Regions from separate parts of the Homo sapiens genome. Here region 1 is linked to region 2. A link means that fine-mapping ties the variant in region 2 to the expression of a gene that starts in the linked region. Tissue or cell type: lung. Region 2 holds a variant in brackets; the other region holds the start of a gene. All regions are shown on one strand. Distances are between the middles of the regions.

Region 1 (4,215 bases), 260 kb after region 2:
TGTGCTTGAAAAAGAACCAAAACTGCACTCCTATAGGAATATTCATTTGGTAACTTTAATATATGCAAACTAATAAAAGTTCTACCATTAAAAACCCATCCTTTGGACAAGGCAGCAGCTTTATAAAATATAATATAATGACTCATTTACAATGAAACTTTACCTGTGTTTCAATTAGAAATATATTTTTAAATAATATTTTTCCAGATACACTGAACTAATACTGTATCATTAGGCTAAACACATATTGATTCAAACTTATTATCTCAAAATTCTGTTATATGAACAAATCTGTGTGCTAATGGGGCACACTAACATTCAACTAAAGTGAATTGTATAGACCCATAGCATTTCACTGGATGATTAAATTAAATGTTTAGAGAGAAAATTAAATCTTTCAAGTCACTAGCAGATTATTCTTGCCCTGAAAATCAGCTGATGCCGTTGCTGCTGTGAATAAAACAGGCATTTGTAACACGGTAAAAAACTAAAAGAATAACATGGGGATAACATTTAAAGATTTCTATTCCCCCTTGAAGCCATTTCTATCAATATAGTTTGTAGACATCTATTTTTACTGTCATCAAAAAGTCTCTCACATTCACATTAATTTTATAAGGAAGCACGTTACTATTACTACTACTTTATTTATAGAAAAAGATTACTCTGCACTGTAACTAAATTGGCTATTTTAAAACTTAAAAAATTAATAGGATTCTGTTAAGTACCTAACACTACATCCATAGTCACCTTCATCTGAAAGCCATGAAGAGACTGATTCCAGGTGTTAAATGATTGAGCCACAGAAATTGATCCAAGTATTCTGCTACTGTTTCCTTTGACATCCTCCCCTCTGGCTACTGTCTACGAAGAAAGTAATTAGAAAACAGCATGTCTAATAAACTAACAGGCAAGTCATTGTTGATCAGATATGGAAACCACATTCTAAGAAAACGAAAGGAAGCCGAGCCGCACACCTGATTTTGTTATGTGAGACCCAATGACAAAAAAAAAAAAAAAAAAAAAAACCCAGATTACAAGCTGTTCAAGTAAGTTTGGGTGCTGATTTTCTTTTTCAAAACCTGAGCAGAAGAAAAACGTCAGGGTTGTTTGGAAGCACCGAATTACAAGATCCTGAATAAGCTGCTTCATCAGACAGACAGCTAGAAAATCCTATTTGCAAAATAGCTCCCACCAGCTTCTTTTATGTCCGAAGTGAGACTCAGTTTTTGGCTAGAAGATACACTCCTGTCAGCGGTAAGGAAGAGGAATGGTGTCTCTCCCCCTTTTCAGAAACACCAATCCCTGGATGAATGGACAACAGGAGCTCAATCTCACAGACGCAGGACTGACCCGAGTACAGTCACCGTCTCTCTCCCAACCCTGAGGGACAATCCCTTTGTGGCACCTGGGGAAGAGAGTATCCAGACAGCTGGTCGGAGTCTGGCAGCGCGGGCAGCAGTGCGGCGGCCACGGCTCCCGGCGAGAAGGTGTGTAAGGTAGGCTGGGTGAAGCGCCCAGGAGCGGAGGGGACAGCGCTGCACCCTCGCTAAGTCTCGCCGCGCTGGGCGCGTATCTGGGGTCCCCAGAAGCCAGCAGAGAGAGACTTGCGACCGGGGCTGAGCAGGAAGTGGGCAGAGCCCCTTCCCCCGCTGCCGTTACCTGCAGCAGCCGAAGCGCAGCCGCTGGCTCTTGCTGGATCCGCAAGTCGGCTACCGACTGGACAGCAGCTACTGCTTCCACTGCCTGCACCTGCCGCTCAGCAGATCCCTCTTTGCACAGGGCACCCCACCCCGGGAATCCCAACGCCAGGAGCCATCCGTGGCCATGGCGGGGGCTTCTCGGCACCCGACTGGGACGCCCCGGCAGCTCCTTGTGGCGCTCGCCTGCCTGCTCTTGAGTCGCCCCGCGCTGCAGGGACGGGCATCCTCACTTGGGACCGAGCCCGACCCGGCGCTTTACCTGCCCGCCCGGGGTGCGCTTGACGGCACTCGCCCCGACGGCCCCAGCGTGCTGATTGCCAACCCTGGACTCCGGGTGCCCCTGGGTCGTTCCCTTTGGCTCGACCCGCTCCGGGATCTGGTGATTGGAGTGCAGCCGGGGGACCGGTGCGAAGTCACGGTACTGGACGCCCTGCCGCGGCTCAAGGGCGCGCTCTCCCCGCGCCGCTTCCCCTGCACCTTCGGGCCCCGCCAAGTCCAGTACACTCACTTCGGCTCCCACAGCCCCGGACGCGCCCGGGTGCTGCTGCAGCTGCGCTACGACGCCCCGACTCACACTCTGGTGCTGCCCTTCACGCTGGCGGTGGACTTGGTCTTCTCCCAGCTGGAGCTGGTGACGCGTAACAGGCCTTTGGTAGTGGAGAAGCTGCGAAGCTGGAGCCGCGCCATAGACAGGAGAGTGCTGGACTTCGCCTCCCTGAAGTCTGGAGCCACGGCCACCCGCAGGTGCCGGCTTACCCCACTTCCTCACGAGGACGGCCCCCTGCCCAAGTACGGGCGCTTGGTGGACGCGGTGGGGGCCCCTCTCCCCAGGGGCAAGGGCGTAGACTGTGAGGCTTTCCTCCGTGCTGGGGTGCGCTATCAGCACACAGCCACCTCCTCGCCCAACCGTGACTACGTGCCCATGATGGTGGAGCTGCTGGGGCCTGAGGGCCAAGACGCTGGGTCCGCGGGTGTGCTGGTCCGCGAGCACTTCCAGCTGCTCGTGAGGATCCGCGGCGGAGCCGAGAACACACCGCCCAGGCCCAGCTTCATGGCCACGATGATGATGGAGGTGGATCCACTGGTGCTGACAGCCCTGACGCCTGACGCACTGGCCGCGGAGGACGTCGAGTCAGACCCTGGTGACCTGGTGTTCAACATTCTGAACGCCCCCACTCACCCACCAGGGCACCCGGGGCAACAGGGCTACGTGGTCAGCACCGACGACCCTCTAGGGCTTCCAGTCTCCTTCTTCACCCAGCAGGAGCTGAGGGAGCTGAAGATTGCCTATCAGCCCCCTGCAGAGAACTCCCATGGGGAGCGCCTCTTTCAGCTGGAGCTGGAGGTGGTGGACGGAGACGGCGCCGCCTCAGACCCCTTTGCCTTCATGGTGACAGTGAAATCCATGAATACTCTGGTCCCAGTGGCTAGCCATAACAGGGGACTTGTGCTTTTTGAAGGTCAGTCAAGGCCCTTGTCCAGCACCCACAGCATTCCTATCAGTGATAAAGATAACCTGGAAGAGGTGAAAATGGCTGCAGTCAGGGGCTTGAGACATGGGCAGCTGGTGGTGTTTGGGGCACCTGCTGGGTGCAAGTATTTCACACCAGCGGACCTGGCAGCAGGGCGAGTGGTGTATCAGCATGATGGCAGCAACACCTACAGTGACAATATCATCTTCCGGATGGAGGACGGGCACCACCAAGTGGACTTCCTCTTTCCCCTCACCATCCTACCTGTGGATGATGAACCACCAATGGTCAATACTAACACAGGACTCTCACTCACTGAAGGGCAGGTGGTCCAGATCTCTCCCTTTGTACTGAGTGCTACTGATATTGACTCTGAGGACTCAACCATCCACTTTGTGCTGGAGAACCAGCCCCTAAAAGGAAATGAGGAAGAGCCTCAGTGGGAGTTGGCCCCTGGTTCCTCCCACTCAGGCCACTACCTGGGGGACCTGTTGCTGCAGCAGGCTGAACTACCTCTCTCAACTGAAGATGAAGACTGGCACTACATGGAAAAGGAAGGGCTTTATGAGAAAGTGGTGACTGAGTGGCTACAGAGAGACATAATGGAAGGGAGACTCTTCTACCGCCATCTTGGACCACACAGCCCTCAATCTGTAATGGTCCAGCTGGCTTTCCATGTGCAGGATGACCATGACCCACCCAATCTCTCCAAACAGCACATTTTCACCATCAAGGTCCAACCAGTGGATATACTGAGTCCACAGCTGTATCCAGGAACTACACTAGAAATGACTGTACAAGAATACCAACTCACTCACTTCCAGAAGAATTTCCTCCGATACATTGACCAGGACTCTGATGACCAGAACCTATGGTACACCCTACTGACACTCCCGACTGACACAGATGGCAACCACCAAGTCCGGGCTGGAGAAATTGTGCTCACTGATTCACCAGACACACTCATCATGCACTTTACCCAAGCCCAGGTAAATCAGCATAAAGTTGCCTACCAGCCTCCACAGAAATTGGGTATTGCA
Region 2 (4,215 bases):
GGAGGCCGAGGTGAGCGAGATCACCTGAGGTCGGGAGTTCAAGTCCAGCCTGACCAACAGGAGAAACCCCGTCTCTACTAAAAATACAAAATTAGCTGGGCATGGTGGCACACGCCTTTAATCCCAGCTACTTGGGAGGCTGAGACAGAAGAATTGCTTGAACTGGGGAGGTGGAGGTTGAGGTGAGCCAAGATGGTGCCATTGCACTCCAGCCTGGGCAACAAGAGCGAAACTCCATCTCAAAATACAAAAAAGAAAAAGAAAAAGAAAAAAGAAAACAGAAAAGATTTCAAGTGTAAGCAATTTATTTTTAGAGAATTAAGCATTAGGAGAGTACATAAGTGAAACTGGCCAAGGATAAAAGTTGTATTACGAAGCCAGCTACCATTGTGCACTACCAGTGCCTAATACGTTAGAGCTCTGGAAAATTGTATAAAATATACGCCTACAAATTATCCAACTAGAGGGATAAGAAAGCTGGCATTTTCATAAACCAACTCCTATCATTTATTGTTTGAGGATTGAATTGAATATGTCAAGTGGAGACAGGGCTAATTCCCTAGAACCTCCAGCCTGGAGTTTGCATGGGCAGACTGGTCCTTTATTTAGTAGAAGGAAAACCTTGGGAAGAGGATACAAATACTGACAGTTGGAAGTCACTGTCTCCTTGGAGCATGCTGAAATAATGAAGTCCAAAGAATATGGGTGAGGTACTGTCCCATATTAAATACGGGCGAGATCATTTGGCAGGCTGATGGCAGTAATGGCCCAACACTTAACTTCTTCCTGTATCTATGCCCTTTGCCATGTGACTTTGCATTTCCTCTCACTATAGAGGAGTGTACTTCTTTGCGCTTTGATTCTGAGTTTGGCCATCTTACACGCTTTGGCCAACAGGACAAGAGCAGATGCATGCAGAGGCTTGAAAAAATCTTTCACACTAACAGTCTCTTAATCCTCTGACTTTGCTGTGACACATACCTGGACTAACCTACTAACCTACTGAAGGTAAAACAGAACCAGGTTATCTCAATCATCCCAGATGAGTTATACTAGATCAGCTAATATGCAACCCATTTCCATGCATGTGAGACCAGAAGAACCAAGTTGCTGGCCCACAGACTCATGCACTAAATAAATTTTTATTGTTTCAAGAGGCATTTTGTGTTGTTTATTATGCAGCATTATTATGGCAATAGGTAATTAGTACCTATAAGGAACGTGCTACTGTAGCATAAAACAGACATATGTGGAATTAGCTTTGGATGAAGTAGGTAGCAAACAGAAGCTGGAAAAGTGTCAATGATACCACTAACAAAGCCTGGAAAAATGATGAGGCAACTCTTAGAACAAAGTGAAAAAATGATCACCCATGCTACGTCGGCATGAAACATCTGTTAGAACTGGTCACTTAAAATAACTTGAAGATGCAAAATGTACCTTACGAATTTTTGGACTTGATCTCCAGGCAGAATGTTGAAAATGTCAGCTGACTCTTACTAGTTGTATGTAAAGTACTACAAGAAAGAAACAAATGTCGACAAAAACACACACACAGTTTACAAGGAGAATATGAGGAATTAAGAGATGCTAGAATTTATTAGAATAGAAACTAAAGTTGTTTTTCATCTTTGCTGTCTCAGGCCAGAAAAATATTTTCACATTAAGATTGGCCTCAAGGTAAAGATAAAAATCAAGGGTGTGGCCATGAGACTTTGAAAGAATTAAGCCAGTGCCTAGAGATGCTCTCAGCTGGAAAGAACTTTCAGGAAAATTTAGGGTATTGTTCCTCAATAGCCAGTACCCAAAAGAGCAGTGGTTAAGTGTAAAAGCAGAACTGTAATCAGGCTAGGGAGGCTATTATACTATGGATCAGGATCAGGCAATCTCCTTCTCTCCCTGTTTCTCTTCTTCTGTCTTCCTCTTTCTTTCTCTTCCTCTACCTTTTCCTCCCTCTTCCTTTCCCCCTCAATTTTCCTCCCTCTCAGCTTTATAGACATCCCCAAGGCACGGGCTAGAATGAGACTCAAGTTGGAATCAGAAATTTCATACCTC[C/T]TATCCACTTCCACTGCAACCTCTTAAAACCAAATCAAAGATGTATTGGTAGATCAGCTTTGTCATATTGTTAGTTGGAGGCTTCATTTCTGATTCCCTATGCCCTTTGATGTTAATATAACTCAGTATCTAACAGTTAACAAAGCAACAACAGTAAGGGCGTGCTGCCCAGGCGATATGATGCAAGGGAAGGACATTGAAATAGTCAAGACTTTCAACTTCAGGGGTGGGAGTTGTTCAGAGAGAACCCTGGAACGATGCCCTTTTCAGAAATATATTTGAGAGGCTGAAGAATGGAGGCTGAAAGATTCATTTGTTTATCACTTTTGACCAGAGAAGTTGTCCGCATGTGTGTAAACAGCAAACAGCTCCAGGTCTTACAGTTGGCCCTCCACACCACACTATTTTAAAATAATGAGTACTATCATTTTCCAAGAGTAACACCTGGCTTACAATTACTAGCAACACTGCAGGTCAGAAAAACAGACTGCTTTTCTGAATGCAACTTGAAAAACTCCTTTTTGATTTCTGTAGCCAGAGGCAACAGAGCTAATAAGTTTCAAACACTACAGGCTCCAGAGAGCTGTAGTTTTTTTCTTTCTTAGTTGGAAGAGCACATATGAAATAAAAATAAGTATAAAATTCTGCCACGAAGAAAGTTACATTTCTAGCCCACAATTTTTTTAAATCTTAATAATAATAATGATAATGATAATAATGAAAATCTAAATGTCACATTGATTGGCAAAAGAGAAAAGGCCATGCCTTCCGACTCTAAGTCCAGTGCTCCTTCCACTGCCAGCTCATTTGACTGGATAGATTAGATACTATAAAGATAATTTCTACTCTAAAAGTTTTCAAGTAAGTTTTTTCAATATATACACTTTTTAACTTTAGAAATGGAGTCTCATTCTGTCACCCAGCCTGGAGTGCAGTGGTATGATCATAATTCACTGTAACCTTGTACTCCTGGGTTCAAGTGATCCTCCCCCTCAGGCTCCCAAGTAGCTAGGAGTACAGACATGTACCACCACACTCAGCTAATTTTTTAATTTTTTGTAGAGATGGGGTCTTGCCATGTTGCCCAGCTTTGTCTCAAACTTCTGGCCTCGAGCAATACTCCCATCTTGGCTCCCAAAGCACTGGGATTACAGGCAGAGCCTATAATCTCTATGTAATCTCTTCTGGCCTCAATATTGAGATCCTGTAAATTGTTATTTGGGGGTGAAAAAAAAGCATGTTACAAATAGTATGTCATATGATCACATATTCAGAACACTCTTTTAAAAGTCTAACATAATTGACAATTGAACTAATTATATTCATATTAAGCTGAAGACAATTCATCAATTAATTTATCAAAAGCAATACCTAAATGGAAGGGACAGCTAGTATTCGATGATTCTCTGAAGAATACAGATGAAGAAAAACTACTGCTTTTTCACCAAATGTCAGTCAGACTAGTCATTAAAAGAGGCTTCTGAGGGGGAGTCATCAAATAATATCCCAAAATTGAATGACTGAGAATACAGTCTGACAAATTATTATTGAAAATATTATAATCTAAGTCTCTAAGATAGCCTTATAAGGAACTGAGAAATTCTACAATGCTTGGAATAAACACACTTGGAAAAAACTCCCAATGTACAGGTAAACCCATATCTAAATCATGCTGGTAAGAAGTGTTGTTTATTAACTTGGGGCAGAAATAATGTTCAAAAACTTTAACCCCTTTGACCACATGGTACCACTCAATCAGAATGAATACTTGGTAACGCAATGTATTTAACACAAGCCAGTTAAATATCAACCATGGTTTTAGGTAGCAGTAGTAAACTGAGTTAAGCAATAACCATATTCTACCTGAACCCCACTAAACCCTTAAAATAAGTGCTTAAAAGAGTAAAAGTATATAATCCACAACTGATCATATTGAGAGATGTTCCAGTGTTGAAGCTATAAACCCATAGAACATTTCTGGTCCAAGGGCTAGTTTTGTTTGTCCTGCACGGCATTTGTTTAATGTCAATTAATTGACAATATTTTGTAAACAGTAGACTTCATACAAAATATTTTTACTTCTCTTGAAATATCAGAAGGTCCACGAATAATGGCCCACAACTCCTCATGACAACAAAATAGTTAGCAGCATTTTTTCTC

Evidence for each region. PIP is the estimated chance that this variant, and not a neighbour inherited with it, causes the effect.
Region 1: it holds the start of FREM3, and the variant in region 2 is the best candidate, but not a certain one, in a credible set for the expression of FREM3 in lung (TOPMed, PIP 0.54).

Annotation. Positions count from the first base shown.
Region 1 is chr4:143,698,288-143,702,502 of GRCh38, reverse strand. FREM3 (FRAS1 related extracellular matrix 3) reads left to right here and starts at 1,828. Exons shown (of 8, transcript NM_001168235.2): 1 at 1,828-4,215. The coding sequence starts at 1,828. RefSeq lists an enhancer at 1,804-2,461.
Region 2 is chr4:143,962,133-143,966,347 of GRCh38, reverse strand. The region is part of intron 9 of LOC105377459 (a long non-coding RNA gene); the gene reads right to left. The region is part of intron 3 of LOC101927636 (a long non-coding RNA gene); the gene reads right to left. Among named protein-coding and RNA genes, the nearest start is that of GYPB, 55 kb to the left of the region's middle. The variant C/T (reference allele first, on the strand shown) is at 2,056.